2 linked regions of the Homo sapiens genome follow. The protein of the gene in region 1 interacts with the protein of each later gene in a pairwise test. Each region holds a gene or a part of one and is shown in the gene's direction. Other genes may lie near its edges.

What was found.
Region 2: the proteins of DCAF6 (region 1) and GTF2IRD1 interact in a two-hybrid assay, tested with the Homo sapiens proteins (one study listed by BioGRID and IntAct).

Annotation. Positions count from the first base shown.
Region 1 is NC_000001.11:168,072,662-168,076,354, forward strand, and holds the end of DCAF6 (DDB1- and CUL4-associated factor 6), read left to right. Parts: intron 1-2,709; coding exon 2,710-2,774; 3' UTR 2,775-3,175; downstream 3,176-3,693. UniProt on the Homo sapiens protein: Ligand-dependent coactivator of nuclear receptors. Enhance transcriptional activity of the nuclear receptors NR3C1 and AR. May function as a substrate receptor for CUL4-DDB1 E3 ubiquitin-protein ligase complex.
Region 2 is NC_000007.14:74,596,891-74,603,129, forward strand, and holds the end of GTF2IRD1 (general transcription factor II-I repeat domain-containing protein 1), read left to right. Parts: intron 1-4,153; coding exon 4,154-4,290; coding exon of another isoform or gene 4,291-4,407; exon of another isoform or gene 4,408-5,404; intron 5,405-5,474; coding exon 5,475-5,543; 3' UTR 5,544-5,715; downstream 5,716-6,239. UniProt on the Homo sapiens protein: May be a transcription regulator involved in cell-cycle progression and skeletal muscle differentiation. May repress GTF2I transcriptional functions, by preventing its nuclear residency, or by inhibiting its transcriptional activation.

The DNA of each region.
Region 1 (3,693 bases):
ACACATCTAGTATCAAATCTCTAGCTAACAATGAATTTGTATTATTTCTTTTAAAGAAAGTAAATAAATTCTTTGTAAAGGGTAGCCTGGAAAATAAAACAACAGTGTTTTTTGTGAAACACAGGCTTCCATTGGGAAATTTTTTTCTTATCTACCTTCCCTCCCTCTGCAGCAAACTCAGTGTCTCTTCATATCATTATCTTCCCCAGTTTCCTGAAGAAATATTCTAACAGAATAAAAGGAACCTTTCTACAAATGTAAACCTTATTTACAAAAGCAATTTGACATTGCTACTTCTGAAAAACAGTATACATAGACATCCTGGCTAACATGGTGAAACCCCATCTCTACTAAAAACAAAAAAATCAGCCGGGTGTGGTGGCACGCTCCTGTAGTCCCAGCTACTCGGGAGGGCGAGACAGGAGAATCGCTTGAACCCGGGAGGCGGAGGTTGCAGTGAGCCAAGATCGCGCCACTGCACTCCAGCCTGGGCGATAGAGCGAGACTCGGTCTCAAAAAAAAAAGAAGAAAAAGAAAAACAGTATACATAGAAGTGATTCTTATTTCCAGTTTTTATTTAAGAGAACACACTGTTCTTCAGACCTCCTTGTCTATAATTGCCAACCAGAGATTTGTATAAGTGTTAACTGCTTTGCAGCCTTACTACTTCAGTAGCATTTCATGAACAGAAGATTTAATTAATTCTGAGAAGTTGGGCTTACATTCTGGAAGAGGTGACTATGCATCAGTTAAATGAATTGAATTTGAGGAGAGAACAACTATTCTGCTTTCCTCATTTCAGAAGCCACTGTCACTTATTCTGTGACCTATCGTAAGACTCTTGGCCCTCATTTGTCTCTTTATTGTGTGCCTCTGAGTGTAAAAGTCTAACCTCTACTGCAAACTCCCTGATTTAAAGGCTGTGACATTTTTTTCTTAACTCTCTATTATCCCATCTTCTTTATAATGTGACAACCAAAAGAAATTTGAGTAAGAAGCCTGCCAACTTTGAGATAGGCCGTTACTGCTTCATCATGCTCTAACATGACAGGATAGGTTTCTTGAATATATTCAGTCATACTCAGGATTCCCATTCCTGAGCCCTACTTAAGTAGAATAGCAACTTCATGTTTTGTTCTCTCTTGAAAGTATCACACAATAAAAACAATGTAATTTTTTTTATACTAATATCCCTTAGGTAGCCTTTTATTGGTCAGAAATTCTTCTACTGTGTTTAAATTCCTTACTGATCTATAAAGGTCTATTCAAATCTTATTTTGTTCATTTATTTTATAAATATGTATTGAATACATATTTATAAAATAAATGAACAAAATAAGATTTGAATAGACCTTTATAGATCAGTAAGGAATTGAATACTTATTTGTATTCAATACCTATTTGTATAATTAAGGTTATAAAGGTTACACATACATTATGTCATTGGTTTGACATTGGATTAGAGTTGGCATAGAGGAGATTTAATCTAATTCACTTGGACAATTAAACAATTAAAAGGGACATATAGTCCCTTCAGTGTACTGTTCTTGGTGCTGTTGACCTAGGATCCAGTGGGAGCATTTAATCCTGTGTAGATAATAAATAAAATCTCAGGATTCAGTCTTCTCTTGCTGTTGACAGTGGGACTGAACTGTTTTCCTTATGCTTAACCTTAATATTTTCCATGTTACTATGTGGAAATGTTTCTGGGGCAGAAACATCCTAGTTCCATCTCAGTGATGGTAGTGATTTTATGCTGTTGCCTTCTTCACAATACCCTTATGTAATGTATCTTACCTTCATAAAACTTATATTCATTTATTCAGTAAACCTTCATTGAACATCCTATACTAGGCTCTGAGGATATAAAGATAAAAAGAAGTAACTCCTGCCCTCCAGGAACTCTCAATCTGGTCTGCAGGAAGACATGCAAACGACTATTACTGTAATTAGGATCATCATTATGAAGTTCATATAAGATATTCTAGAATGTGGAGGAGGGAGTTCATAATTCTGCAGATAGCCTGTTTGGAAATGTCCAGGAAAAGTTTCACCAAGGGTATAATAGTTGTATTGAGATGAGTAAACCTTTATAGCTAAAGAATTGGGCAAAAGTATCCCAAGCAGAGGAATAGCAAGTGTAATTCCTGAAAACTTGAACGAGCATACTGTACTCACCAGTTTGTAAGTTTATATTCACTTGAGTATTTAACCTAAATAAGCTCCTTGAGACCAGAAATTTACATCTGTTTTGGTCACCATTGTATTCTCAGGTTTTATCACAATGCCTGGAACATAGTATTTAATTTAAAAAAATCTTTTTACAAACAGAATTACACAAATCCTCAACAATCGTCCACATATTTTCTCTCACACAGCTGCCTCCTCACTCCCCTTTGCAGCACCTGATGTACCTCCTTAGAAACCTAGACTCCAAAGAACACTGTTTGACAACCACTGCAGTAGAACATAATATATCAAGATTTTAGGAGTGGGTTTCTTTTTTCATTTTTACATGTTTTAGAATAACATGCATAATCAAAGCTAATAATACTGTGTTTTCTTTACTCTTTTATTTGCCTCTAAAGACATCCACACATAGTGGTGAACTGATTTTTAATGCGTTTTAAATAAAAGGCATTGAAAAATATTAATAATTGTAATTACTAAAAGTATTTCTCTTTGCGATTCTCTTATCTGTGTTTCCAGACCGGTTGGAGGGTGACAGATCAGAAGGCTCTGGTCAAGAGAATGAAAATGAGGATGAGGAATAATAAACTCTTTTTGGCAAGCACTTAAATGTTCTGAAATTTGTATAAGACATTTATTATATTTTTTTCTTTACAGAGCTTTAGTGCAATTTTAAGGTTATGGTTTTTGGAGTTTTTCCCTTTTTTTGGGATAACCTAACATTGGTTTGGAATGATTGTGTGCATGAATTTGGGAGATTGTATAAAACAAAACTAGCAGAATGTTTTTAAAACTTTTTGCCGTGTATGAGGAGTGCTAGAAAATGCAAAGTGCAATATTTTCCCTAACCTTCAAATGTGGGAGCTTGGATCAATGTTGAAGAATAATTTTCATCATAGTGAAAATGTTGGTTCAAATAAATTTCTACACTTGCCATTTGCATGTTTGTTGCTTTCTAATTAAAGAAACTGGTTGTTTTAAGATACCCTGAATTTGACTTTTTATTTAATGCCTTGCTACTTTGACCCACAGTTTTCCAATCTCTCCTGTAGCATACGATGACTATTTTTCTATATTTTCTAGATTTAACAACCTTTTCCTTTTTTGCTTGTGTGGGATAGAATCACATAGAAGGACTTCCTTCATTTCTCCTTCCACGGTACAGCTGACCCTTGAGCAACCCAGGGGTTAGTGGCACCAGCCCCCCTCACAGTTGAAGATTCATGTGTAACTGTTGACTTCCCAAAAATTTGACCATTAACAGCCTGTTGATCGCAAGCCTTACTGATAGCATGGTCAATTAACACATATTTTGTATATTTTATGTGTTATATTCTATACTCTTACAATAAAGTAAGCTACAGAAAAAGTGTTATTAAGAAAATCATAAGGAAGAGAAAATATATTTACTGTTCACTAGGTGGAAATGGATCATCATAAAGGTCTTCACTGTTGAGAAGGCCGAGGAAGAAGGAGGCGTTGGTCTTGCTGTCTGAGGGATGG
Region 2 (6,239 bases), on another chromosome or scaffold:
CCAAAAAGGTTTTTCTAAAAATTAGCCAGGCATGGTAGTAGGCACTTGTAGTCCCAGGAGGCTGAGGCTGGAGGATCACTTGAGCCCAAGAGTTTAAGGCTGCAGTGAGCTATGATTATGCCATCCTGCCTGGATGACAGAATGAGACCCCATCTCTTTTTTTTTTTTCCGAGACAGCGTCTCACTCTGTCGCCCAGGCTGGAGTGCAGTGGTGTGATCTCGGCTCACTGCAACCTCCGACTCCCGGGTTCAAGTGATTCTCCTGCCTCAGTTTCCCAAGTAGCTGGGATTACAGGCGCCTGCCACCACGCCCAGCTATTTTTTTGTATTTTTAGTAGAGACGGGGTTTCTCCATATTGGCCAGGCTGGTCTCGAACTCCTGACCTCATGATCTACCTGCCTCGGCCCCCCAAAGTGCTGGGATTACAGGCGTAAGCCACTGCTACCGGCCTTTTTTTTTTTTTTTTTTCTTTCAAGACAGAGTCTCACTCTGTCACTCAGGCTGGAGTCAATCTTGCGATCTTGGCTCACTGCAACCTCCGCCTCCTGAGTTCAAGCAATTCTCATGCCTTAGCCTCCCGAGTAGCTGGGACTTCAGGCATGCACCACCACACCCAGCTAATTTTTTGTATTTTTAGTAGAAGTGAGGTTTCACCATGTTGGCCGGGCTGGTCTCAAACACCTGACCTCAAGTGATCTTCCCACCCCAGCATCCCAAAGTGCTGGGATTACAGGCGTGAGCTACTGTGCCTGGCCGAGACCCCGTCTCCTAAGAAATAAAAAAGAAGAAGAAAGAAAAAATACTGATCTAATCTTACCCCACCTCATTGTACAGCTGGGAAGCTGAGGCACAGAGATGCCCAGGGACTTGCCCAGGCCACATAGTGAGTCAGATGCTGTGTAGACCCTGCTCTCAGGACCACCCATCTGAACCATAGACCACCGTGGGCCACACGGCCCAGTATGGCTGCTCAACAGGGACAGTGATAGGATTCAGCAAGTCCACGCCACAACCTTACCTGAGACCCAAGGCCCTGACTCCTGTCAGGACCAGGTTCACCTGGAACTCCACAGCCTGGGGTGGCACAGCCCAGCTAGAAGCCACCTCCTTCCATCAAGAGCTAGTCACAAGCCTGGGCCATAAAGTGAGACCCTCCCTCCGTCTCTGCAAAAAAATTAAAAATTAGCCAGGCGTGGTGGCGCGTACCTGTTGTCCCAGATAGTCAAGAGGATGAGGCAGGAGGAGTGCTTGAGGCCGGAAGGTGGAGGCTGCAGTGAGCTATGATTGTGCCACTGCGCTCCAGCCTGGGCGACAGAGTGAGACCCTGTTTCCAAAAAAAAAAGAGCCAGTTAAAAGGGTCAGGTCTGGCACTGAACACACGGATCTGGAGGCGATTTGGTTTACTCTCAGGTCAAAGGCAGAGAGGAGGCCAGTCGCGGTGGCTCACGCCTGTAATCCCAACACTTTGGGAGGCTGAGGCAGGGAGGCAGGTGGATCACCTGAGGTCAGGAGTTCAAGACCAGCCTGGCCAACATGGTGAAACCTTGTCTCTACTAAAATCCAAAAAAAAAAAAATTAGCCGGGGGTGGTGGTGGGCGCCTGTAATCCCAGCCGCTCAGGAGGCTGAGGCAGGAGAATTGCTTGAACCCAGGAAGCGGCGGTTGCAGTGAGCTGAGATCACACTACTGTACTTCAGCCTGGGGAACACAGCCAGGCTCTGTCTCAAAAAAAAACAAAACAAAACATGGCAGAGACACAGAAGGCCACATGAAAGCCTCAGGAGGATTTGGGACAGATGCCCAGAGGGTGGATACTGTCACCCACATCCACCACTCCCTCCAATGTGGCCATCTCTCATGGTGATTCAAGGATGGCCACAGCCCATGGACCAGTCTGAGACAGAGGGTGGGGCAGCCTCTGACTTCTTTTTCATGTGGAATCTCCCACAAAAATCCCTCTGACTCATAGCCTGGGCTCCTCCTGCCTCCAGGGTCTTCTCTTTCGCAGGGTCTCTATGCCTCACCACAGACCCCCAGTTTCTGACTTCTCCACCAGTTGAAGAGACATTTGCCCCATGGACCCAGCCTGCCCTTACTCTGTGTCATTAAGACCCTTCCGGTGGGCTGAGTGCAGTGGCTCACGCCTGTAATCCCAGCACTTTGGGAGGCTGAAGCAGGAGAATTCTTTGAGCCCAAGAGTTCAAGACCAGACTGGGCAACATACAGAGACCCCGTCTCTACAAAAAATTAGCCAGGCAGGGTGGTGTGCACCTGTAGGGAGGCTGAGGCAGGAGGATCACTTGAGCTTGGGAGGTGGAGGTTGCAGTGAGCCAAGACCACACCACTGCACTCCAGCATGGGTGACAGAGTGAGACCTTGTCTCAAAAAGACAATAAAAGCCCTTCTTTATTGGGCTGGGCGAGGTTTCCATGCAGTAATCCATCCAATCAGGACGTGCTGCTCAAAGTCTTACATCTTCACCTCAAGTTAATCCAGCAACCACAGAACACCTGCTGACCCCTCCTCCGTGCTGAACTAGGTGCTGGGTTCTTTTATGCATGCGGTGTTTTTTGAGTCTCACATCACACTGGTTTCCCCATTTGACTCAGAGAGGTTCATCAGTTTTCCCAGATTCACACAGTGATAATAGTAAGTGGCCACAGTGAAATTTGAACTTAGGACTTCTGATTCTAAACCAGAGTTTCTTTCACTGGGGCACTGCCTGTCTACTTGGACCTGTGAACTCTCCACTCAGGACCACCATACATTAGTGATAACCATAGCAATACAATTTTTTTGTATTTTGGTAGAGACAGGGTTTCAACCTTCACCATGTTGCCCAGGCTGGTCTCGAACTCCTGACCTCAGTCAATCCACCCACCTTGGTCTCCCAAAGTGCTGGGATTACCAGTGTGAGCCACTGCGCCTGGCCCCAGGTCCTCTTTATACCCTCCCTGGACAACCTAGCCTGCAGTTCCAGCCTCCCCAGAACTCCCAGAGCCTCTCCTGGGGTCCCACATCCCCTCACAGCCTTAAAGAGCCCAGGAAAGAATGTGGCCTCCGGAGCCACGCAGACTTGGCCTTGGAGAAAGTCCTTTAACAGCCCTGCCCCTTCGGGTGCTCGTGAGTGAAATGTGAATAGGATCTTGGAGGGTTGCTGGGAGGATCCCAGCAGACAATGTGCAAAGCATTTAGCACAGTGCCCAGCACCCAGAAAATACTCAGAAACTGAGAATGCGATTAATATTGTTGCCATGAGCCAGGCACGGTGGCTCATGCCTGTAATCTCAGCATTTAGGGAAGCTGAGGCAGGAGGATTGCTTGAGGTTGGGAATTGGAGACCAGCCTGGGCAACATAATGATGCAGAAATACAAAAAGTTAGCCAGGCATGGTGGCGCGCACGTATAGTCCCAGCTACTCGGGAACCTGAGGTGGGAGGATTGCTTGAGCCCAGGACTTGGAAGCTGCAGTGAGCTACGATTGCACCATGGCACTCCAGCCTGGGCAACAGAGTGAGACCCTAAAAAACAATATAGGCCAGGTTCGATGGCTCATGCCTATAATCCCAGCACTTTGGGAGGCCGAGGTGGATGGATCACTTGAGGTCAGGAGTTCAAGAGCTGCCTGCCCAACACGGTGAAACCCCATCTCTACTCAAAATACAAAAAAATTAGCTGGACGTGGTGGCAGACACCTATAACCCCAGCTACTTGGGAGGCTCAGGCACTAGAATCGCTTGAACCCAGAAGGCAAAGGTTGCAGTGAGCCAAGATCGCGCCACTGGACTCCAGGCTGGGTGACAGAGCGAGACTCCATCTCAAAAAACCAGAAAGAGAGAGGACCTAGGGCCTAAGGGGTGAGCTTGCTGGGGAGGAGGAGGGACACATGGGGATGAGGATACGGTGTTAGCAAAGGCAGGCAGGCCAGCAAGAGCAGGAGGCCGGGGAGAGTGGGCCCTCGGGCTTGCTTTGGGAAGGAGGCTGGACATGTGGGCTCTGGACAGGTGGGCCCTGACCCCCAGGGGATCAGGAGCCTGAAATCCTGAAAGGGGGACTCGAAACCTTAAGACAGAGCACTTTTCCAGGGAGCTCAGGAGGCTGAGACAGAAAAGCCTCAGCTTCCAGTGTCAACAGCCTTTTCCCCTCCTTCCAGCCAAAGACAGCAGCATTCCCAAGCGCAAGAGAAAGCGGGTCTCGGAAGGAAATTCCGTCTCCTCTTCCTCCTCGTCTTCCTCTTCCTCGTCCTCTAACCCGGATTCAGTGGCATCGGCCAACCAGATCTCACTCGTGGTAAAGTTGCACCGATTTGGACTCCGGCACTCATCTCTGTGGCCCTCACCCCTCTGTCTGGCAGGGCCGTCTACTCTGGGATGTGGGCCCAGGGGACGGGGAGGCACTGGGCTTTGAGTGGGGACCTTCCGGCCTCGGGGGTTATAGATGCATCCACCTGTCTCACCCAAGAGGTAGCCCATCCTTCTCGTGGGGTACTCACAGGCACTCAGGCAGGAATTCACATCCTCGCTGGGCAGATGGGCCGGCTGAGGTCCACCTGCCCACACCCTTCAGCCGCACCAGAGCTGGAGACATGAAAAGACATGGCTGGCGGGTGCAGTGGCTCACGCCTGTAATCCCAGCACTTTGGCAGGTCAAGTCGGGTGGATCACCTGAGGTCAGGAGTTTGAGACCAGGCTGACCAACACGGGGAAACCCCATCTCTACTAAAAATACAAAATTAGCCGGGCAAAGTGGGGCATAGTGGCTCATGCCTGTAATCCCAGCTACTTGGAAGGCTGAGATAGGAGAATCGCTTGAACCTGGGAGGCAGAGGTTGCAATGAGCCGAGGTCGCGCCATTGCACTGCAGCCTGGGCAACAAGAGTGAAACACTGTCTCAGAAAAAAAAATTAGCCAGGCATGGTGGCACGTGCCTGTGGTCGCAGCTACTTGGGAGGCTGGGGCAGGAGGATCATTTGAGCCCAAGGGGATTGAGGCTGCAGTGAGCCAAGATCGTCCCATTGCACTCCAGCCTGGGCAAGAGAACGAGACTCCATCTCAAAAATAAATAAATAGGCTGGGTGTGGTGGCTCACGCCTGTAATCCTAGCACTTTGGGAGGCCGAGGCAGGCGGATCACTTGAGGCTCAGGAGTTCAAGACCAGCCTGGCCAACATGGCAAAACCCCGTCTCTACTAAAAATAGAAAAATTAGCCGGGCATGGTGGCGGGCGCCTATAATCCCAGCTACTCGGGAGGCTGAGGCAGGAGACTCGCTTGAACCCGCGGGGCCAAGGTTGCAGTGAGCCGAGATTGCATCACTGCACTCCAGCCTGGGCAGAAGAGTGAAACTCCATCTCAAAAAAATAAAAAATATAAATAAATAGCCTCTGAGAAAGCTCTTCCAAAAGCAGAACTAAGCATTTTGGGTTTGTTCCGCATCACCTGGAGTCCTAATCCAGTCCCTTTGTCCCTCTCTCTAGCAATGGCCAATGTACATGGTGGACTATGCCGGCCTGAACGTGCAGCTCCCGGGACCTCTTAATTACTAGACCTCAGTACTGAATCAGGACCTCACTCAGAAAGACTAAAGGAAATGTAATTTATGTACAAAATGTATATTCGGATATGTATCGATGCCTTTTAGTTTTTCCAATGATTTTTACACTATATTCCTGCCACCAAGGCCTTTTTAAATAAGTAAAAAAAGAAAAAAAAAAAAAAGAGTGTTGCCTTTACTTTTACGGTCACTGTTTCATGTTCTCTTTTGGATCGTGGCCGCAGCTGTCACTGGGGACAGGGTCAGGAAACGCAGCTCAGGTGGCCTGCCAAGGCCCTCCTTCTTCATCACAGCAGAGGTAGTGTCCAGGAAGACCCCAGAGCTCTCTGTGCTCCTGGGAGCACGTGACCTCAAGAAGAAAAGCCACGGAAGGAAAATGTGCCACGGGGCCGGGCGTGGTGGCTCATGCCTGGAATCCCAGCACTTTGGGATGTCGAGGTGGGTGGATTGCTTGAGGTCAGGAGTTCGACCTCATTGGCCTGTAATACCGATGCTTTGGGAGGCCAAGGTGGGAGGATTGCTTGAGACCAGGAGTTTGAGATGAGCCTAGGCAACATAGTAGAACCCTTTCTCTAGAAAATGTTAAATGTGGCTTACACCTGTAATCCCAGCACTCTGGGAGGCTGAGGCGGGTGAATCACCTGAGGTCAGGAGTTTGAGACTAGCCTGGGCAACATAAGGAGACCCC